2 separate regions of the Homo sapiens genome follow, and region 2 is linked to region 1. Evidence: fine-mapped expression QTL. A gene starts in region 1. The other region holds a variant in brackets. All regions are shown on one strand. Distances are between the middles of the regions. Region 1 holds the start of PI4K2B (phosphatidylinositol 4-kinase type 2 beta). Region 2 holds the start of SEPSECS (Sep (O-phosphoserine) tRNA:Sec (selenocysteine) tRNA synthase).

Region 1 (8,334 bases):
CCTGAAGCCAGCGAGACCAGGAACCCACCAGGAGGAATGAACAACTCCAGACGCGCCAGCTTAAGAGCCATAACTCTCACCGTGAAGGTCGCAGCTTCACTCCTGAGCCAGCGAGACCACGAACCCACCAGAAGGAAGAAACTCCGAACACATCCGAACATCAGAAGGAACAAACTCCGAACACACCGCCTTTAAGAACTGTAACACTAACCGCGAGGGTCCATGGCTTCATTCTTGAAGTCAGTGAGACCAAGAACCCACCAATTCCGGACACAATAGCACCAGTAGTTAAAACCATTTCTGCTGAAATGGACTTTAGGGAAGTTATAAGAACTACCTTTATGAAATTAATCACTTTAATCACAGATATTGTTCAGCATACAGCATTCACCAAGAGACTGTGACAGGCTACCCTTTGTCTGTTCTGTTTTGGTTCAAATAACCAGTTTATTTTAACTGTATAGACCACATGATTGTGTTTCTCTCAAGTTAGCTGCTCAGTAATTTCAAAAATCAAATCTGTGGGTTGCCTGCATCAAGCATCTGAGGTACATCTTGTGTAATCTTACTCCAGGCTCCATCTTCTCATCTTTCTTCCTTTTAAATGATTTTCTTATTCTGTTCACATATTTATAAACCACCATGAATCATTAAATGACTTACAAATTCACATTTTCTTTTACTTTGGCAGCTCTTTGTGAATTCTAACACTGTTTTCTAACTGTTAGGCTCTCTAACAGGAGCTAAGCGCTCCTGATTTGTATTAACTGGGACCTTGGAGAAGTCACTTCACTTCTTTGTGCTTTTTCTTTTTTTCTTTTGAGACAGGGTCTTTTTCTGTAACCCAGGCTGGAGTATAGTGGTGCAATTATAGCTCACTGGACTCAGTGTAACCTGAAACTCATGGACTCAAGCAATCCTCCTGCCTCGGTCTCCTGAGTAGCTTGGACTACAGGTGTGCACCAAAGAGGCCTCCCAAAGTGTTAGGATTACAGGCGTAAGCCACCATGCCCAGCCTCTCCCTATACTTTCTTAAAATGAGAACAAGGCCAGGCATGGTGGCCTTGTAATCTCAGTGCTCTGGGAAGCCGAGGCGGGAGGATCATCTGAGGTCAGGAGTTCGAGACCAGCCTGACCAACATGGTGAAACCCCGTTTCTACTAAAAATACAAAATTAGCCAGGCATGTGCCTGTAATCCCAGCTACTTGGGAGGGTGAGGCAGGAGAATCGCTTGAACCTGGGGAGTGGAGGTTGCAGTTAGCCGAGATTACGCCATTACAATCCAGCCTGGGTGACAGGAATGAAACTCTGTTCCCCCACTGCCACCCCTACAGCCACCCACTGCCAAAAACAAAAAAAAAAAACAAAAATAGTACTCACATCACAGGGTTGGTTATGAATTAATATATATGAAGCATACAGAACTATGCCTAGCGCATATTAACTGCTATGTAGGCATTAGCTGTCATTACTACCGAATTCACTGATTAAAATAACTAGAACAAGGAATGCACTAATCCTTCCACTTTGACACTGATCCAACAACACTATGGTTTATGCTGTTTGTAGGCTTTGTTAAATGCCTTGTTGAAGATAACAGACATATGACATTCTTCCACTGGCTAAAGTACATAAACCTCTTGCTTATATAAGTAAGAGTTAAGCATCATAAATGATGTTCATATTAATCTAAAGGCAAGAATTTCTTGGAACTAGTGAGGTAGTTTCATGGAAATCGGATGGTAAAGGACAAATGAAGTTAATGGAGTCATTTAAAAAATAACTAAACTTAAAAAGTATTAAATTACTCAATCATGAACATTTTAGTCTTTAAAAATTTTTTAAACAGTTTTCACAGAAACTATTTTAAAGTCCTATTAAAGGTAAAAACCTCCAAAATAACCACAGACACAATTATTTTATAACACTTGTGGACCCATGGCAAAACGGAAAAGGGGCAGAAGATGAAGAAAGAACCAGGCTTCCTCCTGATTTATTACTTCCTGGATATTTGACTTCGGGCAAACCATTTACCTCTGAAGACCTGAGCTACCAGTCATTACCAGTTTATTAATTCTGAATCCTCATAATGAGAATAATGGCGAATAACAACTAACTTGCTGTGCTGTTGTGAAAATAATTAATTTTTTTTTTGAGACAAAGTCTCACTCTGTCACCCAGGCTGGAGTGCAGTGGAGCCATCTCTGCTCACTGCAACCTACACCTCTCGGGTTCAGAAGCGATTCTCCTGCCTCAGCCTCCCAAGTAGCTGGAATTGCAGGCGCCCGCCACCATGCCTGGCTAATTTTTCTATTTTTAGTAGAGGCAGGGTTTCACCATGTTGGCCAGGCTGGTCTGAAAACTCCTGACCTCAAATGATCCACCCACCTAGGCCTTCCAAAATGCTGGGATTACAGGCATGAGCCATGGCACCCAACAGAGAATAAAATTTATTTATTTATTTATTTATTTATTTATTTATTTATTTATTTATTTATTTTTGAGACAGAGTCTTGCTCTGTCTCAAGACAGAACCAGGCTGGAGTGCAGTGGAGAATAAAATATTTTTTTAAAAAAGATCTTAGCAAATTGTAAACTGTGATACAGGTAAGATATTACCTTTAAAAAAGGTAGGAATTCTAAGAATCCATTTGTATTCTAACACTATACTCTATCCTCACTTTGAATTTTTGTTGTTGTTGTTGTTTATTTTTTATAGAGATGGGGATCTCGCTATGTTGCCCAGGTGGGTCTCGAACTTCCAGCCTCAAGCTATTCTCCTGCCTAGACCTCCCAAAATGCTGGGATGGGATTACAGGCCTGCCATCTCGTTGACCTCTCGCTTTGATTTTTTTCTAGCCTTAATACTGTTTGTTTATAAAACACCTCACTTTCACAGAACAAGTGCATTTTGAAGGCTTTAGGCTCTTTTAAAAACCCAGGTACACAAGGTAGCTTACACAAGGTAAGGGACAGAAAAAGGCAAGCTAGCTATTTTACAGACTAAATTCTAAGTAACATATACCCAAATTGCCAATGTAGCTAGGCAAATGCAGACCCGTTTGTGATCTGGTTTCAGCTTCACGTTGTTTGGTTAAACGTCAATGCATCCATCAGGTAACATTATAACGGGAGCAGACGTTGGTTAAAGCTTAAACAATCAGACAAACTGCTCCCCTTGGGATTCTCTGATTTATTTACTCTAGAATATGCCTGAATGTAGCCTCTAGCTAGAACTTGAGTGACCGATTCTATCCAAAATTCTTTAAACTGTAAAGGACACATTAGTGTACCACTAACAGTACATTTAAAATCTAACAATTCCAAAAAAAACTAAGCAGTGTTAAAGAAACTTCCATTTTCTGTGGTTTTTAAGTTGTCATGTGTGAAGCGATAAACCAACCGGGTGCACAACATCTCATTTAATCCATCCTCACAACCAGCAGGGAGGTGTACCATCGCCTTTTTACAAACAAGTCTGTCTCACCTCTAGCTGAGAGTCTTACAAGTCTCTTGCTATTTCCATCACATTTGTCTAACTCCATTCAACACGCCAGAAAAACTCACTTTATTAATAAATATCCAGGCCTGCACAGCATACCTAAATTTAACCTTCAACATCATTTCAACTGCCCTGTTTCGCCTGAGGTTATCAGTCCGCTTAATAGCGAAAAGAGGTTTTTCGTTTTGGTTTTCTTATGTATTAGAAGTAAATCAAGAAAGAGAAACTAAACTGTAAGAGGGCAGGAACAGACTTTCAACTGCTTTTGCCCCCTGTGGCTAACTTCATAATAACAACATTTAATAGAAAAAGGTTTTGAAACGTGCCCCAGTGGCAACTGGATATTCTGGCTGTCCATCTCTCTCCTGTCATCCACTTTGCAAATTCACCACTCCGGGAACTTTCCTGAGAGTTCAAGGTTCTTAATTCAAAAGTCAAGTCCAAACTTGAGCAAGGACTTACGTCATTTTACAGCGTTAACCTCTCCCCAGTGTCGGTTTCTAGAAGTTTTGACTCACTTTGCGGGGAGGTCTAAAGAATCGGTTTAATGACAACCACTGGCCTTAGGAGAGGGAGCTCCCGGAGAAAGAGCGAGCAAGCTAGGTGCCCGCGGTGCGGCTGCGGCTGGCGCCGGTCCGAGCTCGGGAGCTGCTGCCCAGCGAGCGGGGAAAGCCCGTCCACCTCGGCCAGCGCGCGCGGGAGACAGGACCGAGCCGGGCGACAGGGGCAGCCGCCCGGAGGGGCGCGGGGAGTGGGGCAGGGCCGGGTCGCACCTGAAACCGCGGGGCGGCTCCGGTCCAGCTCGGCGGACGAACTCCGGGAGACCCCCACGTCCCCGGGCGGGAGGGGCAGCTCCTCGTCGCCGGCCTCGCCCTCCTCCCCGGCAGCGTCCAGCAGCCTCACGGCGCTGCCTGGGGCGCCTCTCCGCGGGTGGGCCCAGGCGATCCGCGGTAGCAGCGGCTCCCGCTCCCCATCCTCCTCCTCCTCCGGGCTCCCGCCGTCCGCGGACGCCAACCGGTCGGGCTCGGAGGGATCCTCCATGGACTCCCTCTGCTCCCTCCGCGCTGAGACCAGATCAGAGCAGCCAGGTGCCAGAGACTGGGCTCTGCATGGCGCGGAACGGGAGCGACCGGGTAGAACGGACGCCACCTCACCAGCGCACGGGCACGCTTGGCGCCCGCCCAGCGGTTGTCCCGCCTCGCCGCCGGCCGCGCCCCACCTCGCGCCTCCGCCAGGCACCACCCCCGCGCCTGCGCAGAAGGGTCGTGGCGGCGGCGGCGGCGGCAGCGGGGCACGTGGGAGTGAACAGGGGGCGGGGCTTTTGAGGGGTCAGGTGGGGTGGGGCCGCCACCTGCTTCCGTGAGCGCGGGGAGAAGCTGGGCACAGCTCGCTTTACTCCCAGTGGAGGGCGGGAAGGTGAGTAATTTTCAAAGAGGTGCCCTCCTGCAACCAAAAGCGGCTTCTCCCTGACAGAATTCTCTCTCAGAGTTTACCATAATCTGTAACTATAGATTTAATTGTATGACATTTCTTTCCTCCAGTAGACGTCCAGGAGGGCAGGGACCTTGTCTTTGTTCAGATATTCTTGATAGTGGCAGTTTGTATGTTTTCTTTTTCTGACTAATCTAGCTAGAAGTTTATCAATTTTTAAATCTTTTCAAAATGTCATGTTTTGGTTCCATTGATTTTCTGTTTTCTGGTCCATTGCCTTATTTTGCTCTTTATTGCTCACTTGAGTTTTGATTTCCTCTTCTTTTTCTAGTTGCTTAGAGTAGAAGATGATTGATTCTGGATCTTTCTGCTTTTCCAATGCTAGTATTTTAAGGCTATAAATTGCCCTCTAAGCACTGCTTTAGCTGAATTCTCCTTTTTTTTTTTCTTGGTGGTTGTTATTTTTGAGACAGGGTCTCACTTTGTTATCCAGGCTGGAGTGCAGTGACACAATCATAGCTCACTGCAGTCTCAACCTCCTAAGCTCAAGGGATCTTCTCAGCTTTAAACTGTAGAAGACACAGTAGCTGGAACTGCAGGTGTGCACGACCACATCCTGTTAATTTTTAAATTTAAATTTTTTGTAGAGATGGGATCTCACTGTTGCCCAGATTGGTCTTGAGCTCCTGGTCTCAAGCAGTCGTCCTGCTTCAGCATCCCAAAATTCTGGGATTACAAGCATAAGCCACCTTGCCTGGCCTGCTACTGTGCTTTTGTTTTCCTTCAGCTGAAAATAGTTTTTAATTTCCTTTATGATTTCCTCTTTGACCCTGTAAAGGAAAATAAAAATCTCAGAACCACCCCCCACCCCCAACTTGTTATGTCAAAGGGAGAGTTAAGCCTGGAGACTGAAGTCACTCAACACTACAATGCTTTTCCCAAATGGATAGCTGTTACTTCCCATAGTTGTATTAAAACTTTATATGTTAGCCAGACCCTCCTCAAAATGCAAAAAAAAGCCTTATGCATCTCAGTCTCAGGATGACTGTCCTCAACAAATTAATCATAGTAAATTCTTTACTGGCCCTTAAACCTTTCAAGATGTATATCCTTCCATAAAACAAGGACGTGTCAATTGTATAACTTTAAGTCTGCAACCTAAATCAAACTGGTACAACTAAAGTCTGTTAAATTTCACATGGATAAATTCAGTTACAAGCTTATCTTCCCAGATGCAGAACAAGGATAAGATCAATCATTCCTTCACCTGAGATATCTGTATAATTAACTTCCTTTACTCCATTTTCTTTGAATATTCACCTTATCTTATGCATAGCATAGAGTTACTGGGCACTACCTAAAGTCTAGCAAAAATGTAACCATTTGCTTCACCACCTACAACCCTCTTCCCTGATGCCTTCTCCGCTTTAAAGAAAGAATAGCTGTAATTACAGGTGCCTGCCACCATGCACGGCTAATTTTTGTATTTTTTAGTAGAGATAGGGTTTCACCACATTGGCCAGGCTGGTCTCGAACTCCTGACCTCAGATGATCCACCCGCCTCGGCCTCCCAAAGTGCTGGGATTACAGGTGTGAGGTACTGCACCTGGCCTGTAAATGCCTTTTAATTGGAGTTTGGGGTCCATTTACATTTAATGTAATAATGATGTGGTTGGATTTAGATCTATTATTTTGCAATTTGGGTTTTATTTGCTTTAACCTTTTCGGTTCCTCTGTTCCTCCTTTCCTGCCTTCGTTTGGATTAATTCAATAATTCTGATTATTTCATTTTCATTCCACCATTGACTTTCTGTTATACTTATTTTTTTTCTTTTTTTGAGATGGAGTTTCACTCTTGCTGCCCAGGTAGGAGTGCAGTGGTGCAATCTTGGCTCACTGCAACCTCTGTCTCCTGGGTTCAAGCTATTCTCCTGCCTCAGCCTTCTGAGTAACTGGGACTACAGGCACATGCCACCATGCCCAGCTAATTTTTGTATTTTTAGTAGAGACGAGGTTTCACCATGTTGGCCAAGATGTTCTTGATCTCCTGACCTTGTGATCCACCCACCTGAGCCTCCCAAAGTGCTAGGATTACAGGCATGAGCCACCACGCCTGGCCTCTGTTATACTTCTTTACATTAATTTTTAGTGCTTACACTAGGGTTTTCAATACTCATCCTTAAATTATCTCAGTGTACTAAGAGCCAATATTGTACTATTTGACATAAGAGGTAAGAACTTAGTGTCATTCCATTTATGCCCCATCGTTTATGTTATTGCTGTCATGTATACTAGACCTAAATATTTAAATACAGTGAATAATTTTTGCCTTAATTGCTTTTTTAGAGAAATTACCCACATAGTTACAACTTCCGGTGTTCTTCCTTCCTTTTTGTAGATCAGAGTTTCTATCTAGTATCATTTCCCTTTCCTCTGAAGAATTAAAAACAAATTTTATAATGCAGATTTGCTGATTAATATGGCTTGGCTGTGTCTCCACCAAATCTCATCTTCAATTCCCACGTGTTGTGGGAGGTGGGAGGTGGGAGGTGATTGAGTCATGGGGGCAGATCTTTCCAATACTGTTTTCATGATGGTAAGTGAGTCTCATGAGATCTGATGGTTTGAAAAACAGGAGTTTCCCTGCCCAAGCTCTCCTTGCCCGCTCCCATCCACGTTAGATGTGACTTTCTCCTCTTTGCCTTCCCCCATAATTGCAAGGCCTCCCCAGCCATGTGAAATTGTAAGTCCAGTAAACCTCTTTCTTTTGTAAATTGCCCAGTCTCAGGTATGTCCTCATCTGCAGCATGAAAACAGACTAATACACTGGTGATAAATTTAAGTTTTAATTTATTAGAAATTGTCTTTATTTTACCATCATTTTCAAATGCTATGTCCTCTGGATACAGACTTCTGGGTTGATATTGCTATCCTTACCCATCTAAGTTCAACTGTAAATATGTCATTCTATTGTCCTCTTGCCTTCATTGTTTTTGAATCATAACCCTTCACTTACACACCCGACTTGTGCTATGTCATTTTCTCTAGCTGCCTTTAAGATTTTCTCTGGTTCTTTGGTTCTTTGATTTTCAATAGTTTGACCATGATGTTTTTGGTATGATTTTCTTTACAAATATCTTGCTTAGGTTTTGCTTTACTTCTTGAATCTGTAGATTTATGTTTTCCACAAAATTTGGAGAAATGTCATTCTTTTTTTTTTTAGAAGCAGTTTATTACCTTAAAGCATTTAGCAAACCTAATGTCTGACCTAATTTCAACCAAATGTCTTTATTTTACCAATAATCTTCAAAACTCTTGATTTCCCAAAGCCTACTAAAGTCATGCTGTCACAGGCCATTAGACAGCATGAGCAGGGCAGGAAAGGGCTCTTCTCCCACCC
Region 2 (8,334 bases), 73 kb after region 1:
ATTGCTTTTAGGAGGCTGTGTTCTACTTTTCAGGGCTTTTTTTTTTTCAGACGCTTAAGTTTATTGGGGAAAAAGCGATCCTTGTAGATCCCTTCTCATGTCAGTCCAATCAGCTTTTCTTTAAATCCAAGATTTAACACCTGAGGATCTGGCCAATATATGTATACATTGATATATTTAGGTTAGGTAACCCTGAATCATATGCATTCAAATGAATCCTAAATTCTTCTATAAATAGTTGCTGGTCTTGTTTGGAAGTAGAGAAATTCTTGATTATTGCTCTTAATTCATCTTGGGTGCAAAGTTTAAATTCTGCAGTTGCCTGCATACCTGGCTTTTGAGGGGAGAGGGATCTTTAGAAGCAATTGACATTTTAGAGTTTTAGGAGAGTTGTTGGGAAAATGCAGGAGTCCTGGACAAGAGGAAGAGAAGGGGGGAGTTGATGGAAGGGAAGAAAGAGAGCTATCAGAAGGCTAAGGGATAAGAGGGACATCTGGATATAGGGAGCCAACGCAAAGGGGAAGATTTACTAGGAAATGAGTCTAGTTTGTTGTTGCTTAAGATGTCAAATTGCTTGTTAGCTTTAGCCAAAGCATCTTTTAGTGGAATAATTCTTGAATCAGAATTTCCTTTGGAGGCCTCTGTGTACCACTAAAAAACTGTTGCCCATCAAACCTAAGAAATCTTAATTCCCTTTCTTTTCTTGCCCATCAAATAAAAAATTTTGTCAAGTCAAGTGTTTCCCAGAGTGGCCACTGAAGGCCCAACTCCTCATTGCTGAAGTTATGCCACTTAGAGAGATAGGCACAAGCATTAGGATTGTAATGAGAGTATGTATAAGAAGCAGAAGTTTTTCCTGGTGGAGAGGATTTAGACTTAGAGCTGGCTACGGTGTTGAAAGTTATGCTCGTGCTTATCCTGTCTCAGTCCCCAGCCTGATTTTTGCCCCTTTTGAACACAGACCGAACAATCTGTGCCCCCTGGCAGGCAGAATATCAGAATGACCTCTTTCTTTGGATCAAAAGCAAGCCCTCAGAACAAAAAATCAAGATGAAGGGAGAACTTCATCCAGTTTTATTGGTGACCCACAACAAAATTTGTCCAAACGGATGTAGTCTGGTGAGAACTGCAAACTCATCGGTCTGTGAAACTGGCTTAAACAACAGGGTTGTAGGGCCCATGGCCATGTTCTACCCTATGATTCTCCTTCTTATGGAAAATAACACTTTTAGATAGCACAATACAAAACAGAAGTACAAAGGACAGCACAAAGGATGAAAAGGAATTGCCTGATTCCACTAAGGATGCAAATAGGAACCAGTAACAAAATCTGAGTACCAAACTTCAAATGAATAGCTTAGGAACTCAAGGCAAACAGGGAGGAGTTCCAAGCCAGCACTGACTTACCATGTTGGCATGGACTTGACAAGCCATAAGCAACAAGGCACGAGGAGCCCCTGTGGGCACCACAACTGGCCAAAGGCTGAGGTCCACCGCCATGGACAGCACAGACCATGTCTCAGTGAAGTCTCCAGGAAAACTGGAAATTCAGAGCGTGCTAGAGAAGGGAGTCAGTCACCATCATTTACATTTGTCAAGAGTCTCAAAGGCAGGCAGGGGAGTGGGAAAGCTTTATAGTGAAAGATTCAGGTACAGGGAAGAATTCAGGTGTGCCGATTGGAGGTGTTGGCAAGGAGAAGCTAGAGGTTGGCTAACTAGAAACAGGGCATCTTATGTAATTTAAGGAGGATATTTAGCTTTCTCTGGTTGGTCTTAAGTTAGAAGCGAGTAATAAAAGAGGGAAGCTGGCAGTCATTGCCCAAGTCTTAACCATTCTTGGCTGATTGCTGCAGAGGTGGTGGTTTGGAAGTCTAGTTGCTAGAGAGGTTGTGGGTGAGAGTTCTGTTATCACATATGATCTGGCCATTGTCCATTTGTATAGTCAGTCTATCTAGGGGAAGATGTCATTGAGCAATTACCTCTCATTTAATCATCATAACTGCCTCTTCCATATCCCCATTTTACAGATAAAGCAAAGCTCAGGAAGTTTGAGTAATGTATTTAAGGTTATACAACTAGTGACCCTAGCAGAATTTAAACCTGTGTGTTCTGGACCTATTTTAAATGATGCTTCATCTTGTAAAGACCATGAGGTTATTCTGATGTTGCCCTATTAAAAATAGTAATTACATACTATTATTAAAAATAGTAATTACATACTATTTTAAAATAGTAGTTACAAACTACTATTTTAAAATAATAATTACATACTATTTTTAATAGATAGCATCATTTAAAATAGGTCCAGAACACACAGGTTTAAATTCTGCTAGTGTCACTCATTGTATAACCTTAAATACATTACTCAAACTTCTTGAGCTTTGCTTTCCTGATCTGTAAAATGGGCATATGGATAAATACTTGTTGGGTGAGTGAATGGATGAAAGTAATTTTAGAATACTTCTCTTGAAATTGCTTCCAAAGCTGGTATCTTTTGAATACCTTTAATGAATGCATATCTTGACAATGACTAACTTTTTGGAAACAGACAAACATTTTTCTGAAGTAAGGTGGTGAATAAGGTAAGAGAAGAAGCTGGCTCAAAAACCTGGCGTGTCCATTCAGTAATGACATTAATTTTGGGATTTTTGCACATTTTGCATGTGATTGACAAAGCAGCTTTGAAGGCTTTTCCAAAGAAGAAGTTGCAAAAATAGTTGCATTTTGAGAATAGGAACACAACTTTCCAAAAGTTTGAAAAATACTCATTTTAGAAAGTATGCTAAATTCTTGTTGTTTTGTGGTTTACCTTTCTGTTTAAAGTAGTTAAATGCTCTATGTCATTCAACAAATATTTATCAAACAGCTATTATGTATTTAGTGCTGTGCTTTGAACACAGATATTGGTATAGCCCTTGTGAACCAGGAGTTCACAGTCTAGTTGAGACAGAAAATTAACAATTGAAATGCAATTCAACAAATACCATAAATAGACTGATTTATATTAATAGCTGGATGCCATGGGAACATGCAGTAGAAACAGTGATGAGCTGGTACATGTTGAACAACTGACTTCTAGGGGAGTGGGTTGGAGTGTAAGGGCCTGATTAGCGGTGTTTACTGATTTCCATGGTGTAAATGCTCCCACCATGGCCAACGTGACATCATCAAAAGAGGAGTTGGAAGATGTGCAGTAGTATAACATTACATTGAATTTCCACCATATAGATAAAATGCATGTAAATAACCTGAAGAGCATAGATAATAGTAAAATGTAAAATAATTAGGAAGTGACAAATTTTGAGTATTTTTACTTTTGCTTGTAATATAATTTTTGAGTGGCTGTATTTGAAAACTAGCTCACAAAATTACTGAACATTTAACAATCAGCTCTTGCAAGTGGGTGTGACTCAGTGCAAATGGACAAACCACCAGGTGAAAGCAATGTCAGGAATTACTGTAGGCTCACATAAGATGAAGATTGTAAGGAAACTGGAGGCAGGGATCTCCAGCAGTGAACCTCTAAGTTGTTGAACTGTTACAGCACTGCCAGGTTCCTATGCCGGCTGTGCAGAAACAGACCAGTATTCCGACAGCAGGCTTGCAGCAGAGAAAGTTTTAATAATCACAAGTTACAAGCCAGGAAACAGGAAGAGTTCTCAAGCTTCAATCCATTTCATCAAGGGGTTCTAGGCAAAGTTTTTTAAGGGGATTTGTGGAGGGTGAGGGGCTGGAAAATTTGGGGTTATCGATTCGTTGGGGTAAGGGAGATGAAATCATTAGGATGTGACAATTGCATTCCTCCATGAATCAGCTTTTTATTGGGCCTTCCAGACAAGTTGGCGTCCTTAGTTTTGTTGGTATGCGGGACCTAAAGAAGCAATGCAAACAGAAAGCTTATCTTCTCATAATGTCTTAGATTTTATCTTCAGAGCAGAAAAAGAATGAAGAGTCTTGTGACAAGGGCCACATTCTCCTGGGGTAGTAAGTAGCAACCAGCTACAAGAAAGTCGGCCACACTGCAAGCTGGCTTAATAACAGCAGCTGTAAGCCTAGTTGGATTTTTTTCCCCTCCTTAATCAATTTTACAAAATGTTCTTGGGGATAGTTTCAGAATGGTCAAACTAATTCATTAATTCAATATCAACTTTTTTTTTAGGCCCTACTTTATTCTGGGCACTGTTTTAGGTGCCCGGGGGAAGGGGGCACCGCAGCAAAAACCGAGGTCCTGCCGTTAGGTTAGAGAGTTTACATTCATGGGTATGGGTGTGTGTGTGTGTGTGT[A/GTA]TAAACAAACGTCTGGCATGTCACGTGGTGAGTAGTAAGTGCTATGGCTAAACAGTAGTGTCAAGGGGAAAATGAGTGGGGCACTGCTATTTCCTATGGGGTTGTGAGGCAGTAATAAGTGTGGAAATGTATCAAAGTAAAGATCGAAGGTTCTGGCATCTGACAGTTTGAATAAGGCGGAAGCACAGACCCTGCACAGATCTCAACCATCCAACAGGACTGAAACACAGAACTTGGAAAAACCCACGTACCTGCTTCTTACTCTGCTCGCCCGGTCTGCACAAGTGCAAAATCCTTTCCTGAAGTTTGTGTCAGGAACACCAGGGTTTAACTAGACGAATCAGCCGCAGCGGGGCGGGGCTAATTTCAGTCCTTCCTTTGCCAAAAGTCAGCGAAAAGCGCGGACTCCCTCGCGCATGCTCAAATACGCCAACTTCCTCCTGGAGCGCCATCTGAGAAGGTCTGCGCATGTGCACGAACGAGAAGTGTTTTTTTTGTTTTGTTTTGTTTTGTTTTGTTTTTTGTCCCAAGGCGCTGCCGTACCGTCCAGGCGGCGAGTTGCATTCTGGTTCCGTCGTGTGTCTGGCGTGTGGAGCTAGTGCTCCCGCTTATTCGCCACTGTCGCCACCGCTGTCATGAACCGCGAGAGCTTCGCGGCGGGAGAGCGGCTGGTGTCGCCGGCTTACGTGCGGCAGGGCTGTGAGGCCCGCCGCTCGCATGAGCACCTCATACGGCTGCTTCTGGAGAAGGTACCGAGCTGTCGGTCCCCTCCCCAGCCGCCGCGACCCCGGGGCTCTGGCTCCGCCGGGCGTCCCCGCTGGTGCTGCCTCACCGGCAGCTCTTCGCTGCTTGAGACTAGTCCCAAGTCTGTCTCAGCTTGGCTTGCCCTAGCTGACCGACTGCGGTCTGTGCCTTCTCAGCCTTGCCAAAGCCAGTGAAAGCCAAATGGTGTTGTTAGGAGGGGGTGTTGGGGTCGGGGTTTTGAGTCCCGCTGTTTCTAACTTCGGGATGCGGAAGTGAGGGAAAGTCCCAGTGTACTTTTTTATTCGCGGAAAGGGCAAAGTTCGCACCTCCATCTTTCACCAACCCTCAACGACTCAGAACACATAATGGTGTTTGTAGACTGTATGCTAACTCGAACCACGAGCTTTCCGCGGAACTTCACAGGTCTCCCTCCTGCCAGCGTTCATGTATTTTAATTTCATTAAAAGTTTTGTTGTGTTTTGTTTTTTTGAAACAGAGTCTCGCTCTTTCGCCCAGGCTGGAATGCAGTGTGACGATCTCGGCTCACTGCAGCCTCCGCCTCCCGGGTTCACGCCATTCGCCTGCCTCAGCCTCCCGAGTAGCTGGGACTACAGGCGCCCGCCACCACACCCGGTTAATGTTTGTATTTTTAGTAGAGATGGGGTTTCACCATGTTGGCCAGGCTGATCTCAAACTCCTGACTTCAAGTGATCGGCCATTCTTGGCCTTCCAAAGTGCTCGGATTACAGGCGTGAGTGAGCTACAGCGCGTGGCCAAAATTTCACTGAAGTTTGACAACTACCGCCCTTCTCCACGTCCCACCGCCCCAGTCGTAACGCCCTGGTTTGAAGCATCTTCACTGGGGATGTGTTGTATTGGTTTTCAGTTAGTTTCACTTACGGAAATTTAAATATCTCAGTAAACCTCATTGTATGCATTTATCATCACTTCTCGAAATCTGTAAATAATTGTAATCAAATGTACAAACGTTTTGCCTCTTTGCGGTCTCTATACAGTGGTGAATTTATGCTTGAATTTTAGAAAACAAGCAGCGTGGCAAAATACACGTTAAAAAGAAAAACTGTATTCCTGTAGTATTCTAGAGAACGGTAGTTTTATTAAATATAATCATAAGTTTTTTTTTTTTTTTAAGGGCAAGTGTCCAGAGAATGGCTGGGATGAAAGTACACTTGAACTCTTTTTACATGAACTTGCAATCATGGACAGCAACAATTTCTTAGGCAATTGTGGTGTGGGAGAAAGGGAAGGGAGAGTGGCATCCGCACTGGTTGCTCGTCGTCATTACAGGTATCTTTTTTTAAGTAGTACAGGAGATACATCGTTTATTTATTTTTGGTTCAAAATAATGGCAGCAGTATTTATCTTATTAGATTATCAAATGTCAGTTTGTAAACCACTTCTTCCCTGCTCTAATGGATATGTAAGCCAAATGCAACAGGGAGATGGAAACAATTTTATCTCAGCAGGTGCTTTTCAAAGACAATAGAGTAAAAACTAAGTGGGGGTTACCCTGTCAGGTTCTGGGTGACTAACACAGGCTATACGTTTTCTTAGGAACGGTTACCCTAATAAACATATCTGGTTGTAAGAGTTCAAAATCCATTAAGGTTGTTTATAGCTTTCCATATTTCTTTTCTAACATTTGTAGTGTTTTTTTTTTTTGAATGATTTATAGTTATCAACTTTAAATTTTGTTTTAAACTGTGTTTAAACTGAATCTCATTTTATAAATACCTCTGTTGCAATAGATACAGGGAAAGGTGTATTAGATTATTAAGTGACCTTTTTCTTTTGCATTATTGCAGAAAGCTTTTCATCAATTCTGATAACGATTTAATTGGTAGTTAATTGGTAGTTAATATGATCACTCATTGCTCTGTCCACTAACCTTTCTGTGAAGTGTAAACTCTTTTAAATGAAACTCCTGTCTTCCATGCTTTTACATTATAATGAAAATTTCCTGGGCATCGTAGAATTTGTATTTCAGTAAAAACCACTGCAGTCAAAACTGATGATAATGCCTAACTTGGATGAAAATTTCAGTTAACAGTTTGCTGATAACATGGTTGATAATATATGTAAGAAATGTTTTGTACATGAGATTTCAGTGGTGAGGAAGTACAGCACTAGTATTCTTCGATAATCCTCCTATACCGAATTTCTGATATATTTGACTGTCAATTAGAAATTACTCAAATTACGAAAGGGTTTTTTATTTTAAAGAGTATTGAGAGGTATCTTTAAACAATGTATAATATTGTCTAATTTAAAATGAGATTTGCACACTGATTTTCTAGGAGCATATAGTTCTTTTAAAATTAAGGCAATATTTGAACCATCATTGGAACTTAGCCCAGTGTGGAATTAGGGGAAAAGTAAAGAAAAAAGATAATTTGGCCGGGCACGGTGGCTCACGCCGGTAATCTCAGCACTTTGGGAGGCCAAGGCGGGCGGATCACGAGGTCAGGAGATCCACACCATCCTGGCTAACATGGTGAAACCCCGTCTCTACTAAAAATACAAAAAAATTAGCCGGGCGTGGTGGCGGGCGCCTGTAGTCCCAGCTACACGGGAGGCTGAGGCAGGAGAATGGCGGGAACCTGGGAGGTGGAGCTTGCAATGAGCCGAGATCGCGCCACTGCACTCCAGCCTGGGCGACAGAGCGAGACTCCGTCTCAAAACGAAAAAAAAAAAAAAAAAGATAATTTAATATTTCATGTATTCTAGTTTTCTATTGCTACAGAACAAACCACCCTAAAATTAAGTGGCTTAAAACATTTATTGTTACCTCTCATAGCTTTTTGGATTAACTGGGCTCAGCAGGGTGAGTATTGCTTTGGGTCTGTCATGTAGTTGCAGTCAGATACTGGCTGAGAGTTTAGTCATCTGAAGGTTTGCCTAGCATGAAAATTTCACACAGTTACTTCTGCTAGATTCTTCCTGGCCAAGCAAGTTACTAAATTCAGCCCAGATTCAAGTGGAGAGGAAGTAGACTCCATCTCTTGGTGTGGGAGTAGCATGTGGGCATAGGGAGAAAAAGAATTGATGGTGGCCGTCTTTGGAAACTAGCTATCACAGCATAATTGATGAAATTATTTCAATTTAAGTAGGAGAGTTCCACATCATTAATAGTTTGTGACATATATCTGTAACAGCCAAATATTGCTCCTGGTGTTTTTTTGGTTATTACATTTGCATATTTGTACATTGTATTACTCGGAATGCTGAATGTATTTGTCCAGTTTTTGGCCCATTTTTTGCTTAGGTTCATTCATGGCATTGGAC

Evidence for each region.
Region 2: its variant is fine-mapped to the expression of PI4K2B in whole blood (INTERVAL, PIP above 0.99).

The regions. Positions count from the first base shown.
Region 1 is chr4:25,230,374-25,238,707 of GRCh38, reverse strand. PI4K2B (phosphatidylinositol 4-kinase type 2 beta) reads right to left here and starts at 4,675. Exons shown (of 10, transcript NM_018323.4): 1 at 4,277-4,675. The coding sequence starts at 4,544. LOC105374535 (a long non-coding RNA gene) reads left to right here and starts at 4,843. Exons shown (of 4, transcript XR_925490.3): 1 at 4,843-4,919. RefSeq lists enhancers at 3,786-3,915, 3,848-4,347, 4,348-4,849 and silencers at 4,136-4,195, 4,236-4,475, 4,576-4,885.
Region 2 is chr4:25,156,955-25,165,288 of GRCh38, reverse strand. It overlaps SEPSECS (Sep (O-phosphoserine) tRNA:Sec (selenocysteine) tRNA synthase), which reads left to right and starts at 4,840. Exons shown (of 11, transcript NM_016955.4): 1 at 4,840-5,033; 2 at 6,182-6,336; 3 at 8,315-8,334. The coding sequence starts at 4,920. It overlaps SEPSECS-DT (SEPSECS divergent transcript), which reads right to left and starts at 4,617. Exons shown (of 2, transcript NR_037934.1): 1 at 4,536-4,617. RefSeq lists an enhancer at 4,577-4,876 and a silencer at 4,987-5,156. The variant A/GTA (reference allele first, on the strand shown) is at 4,285.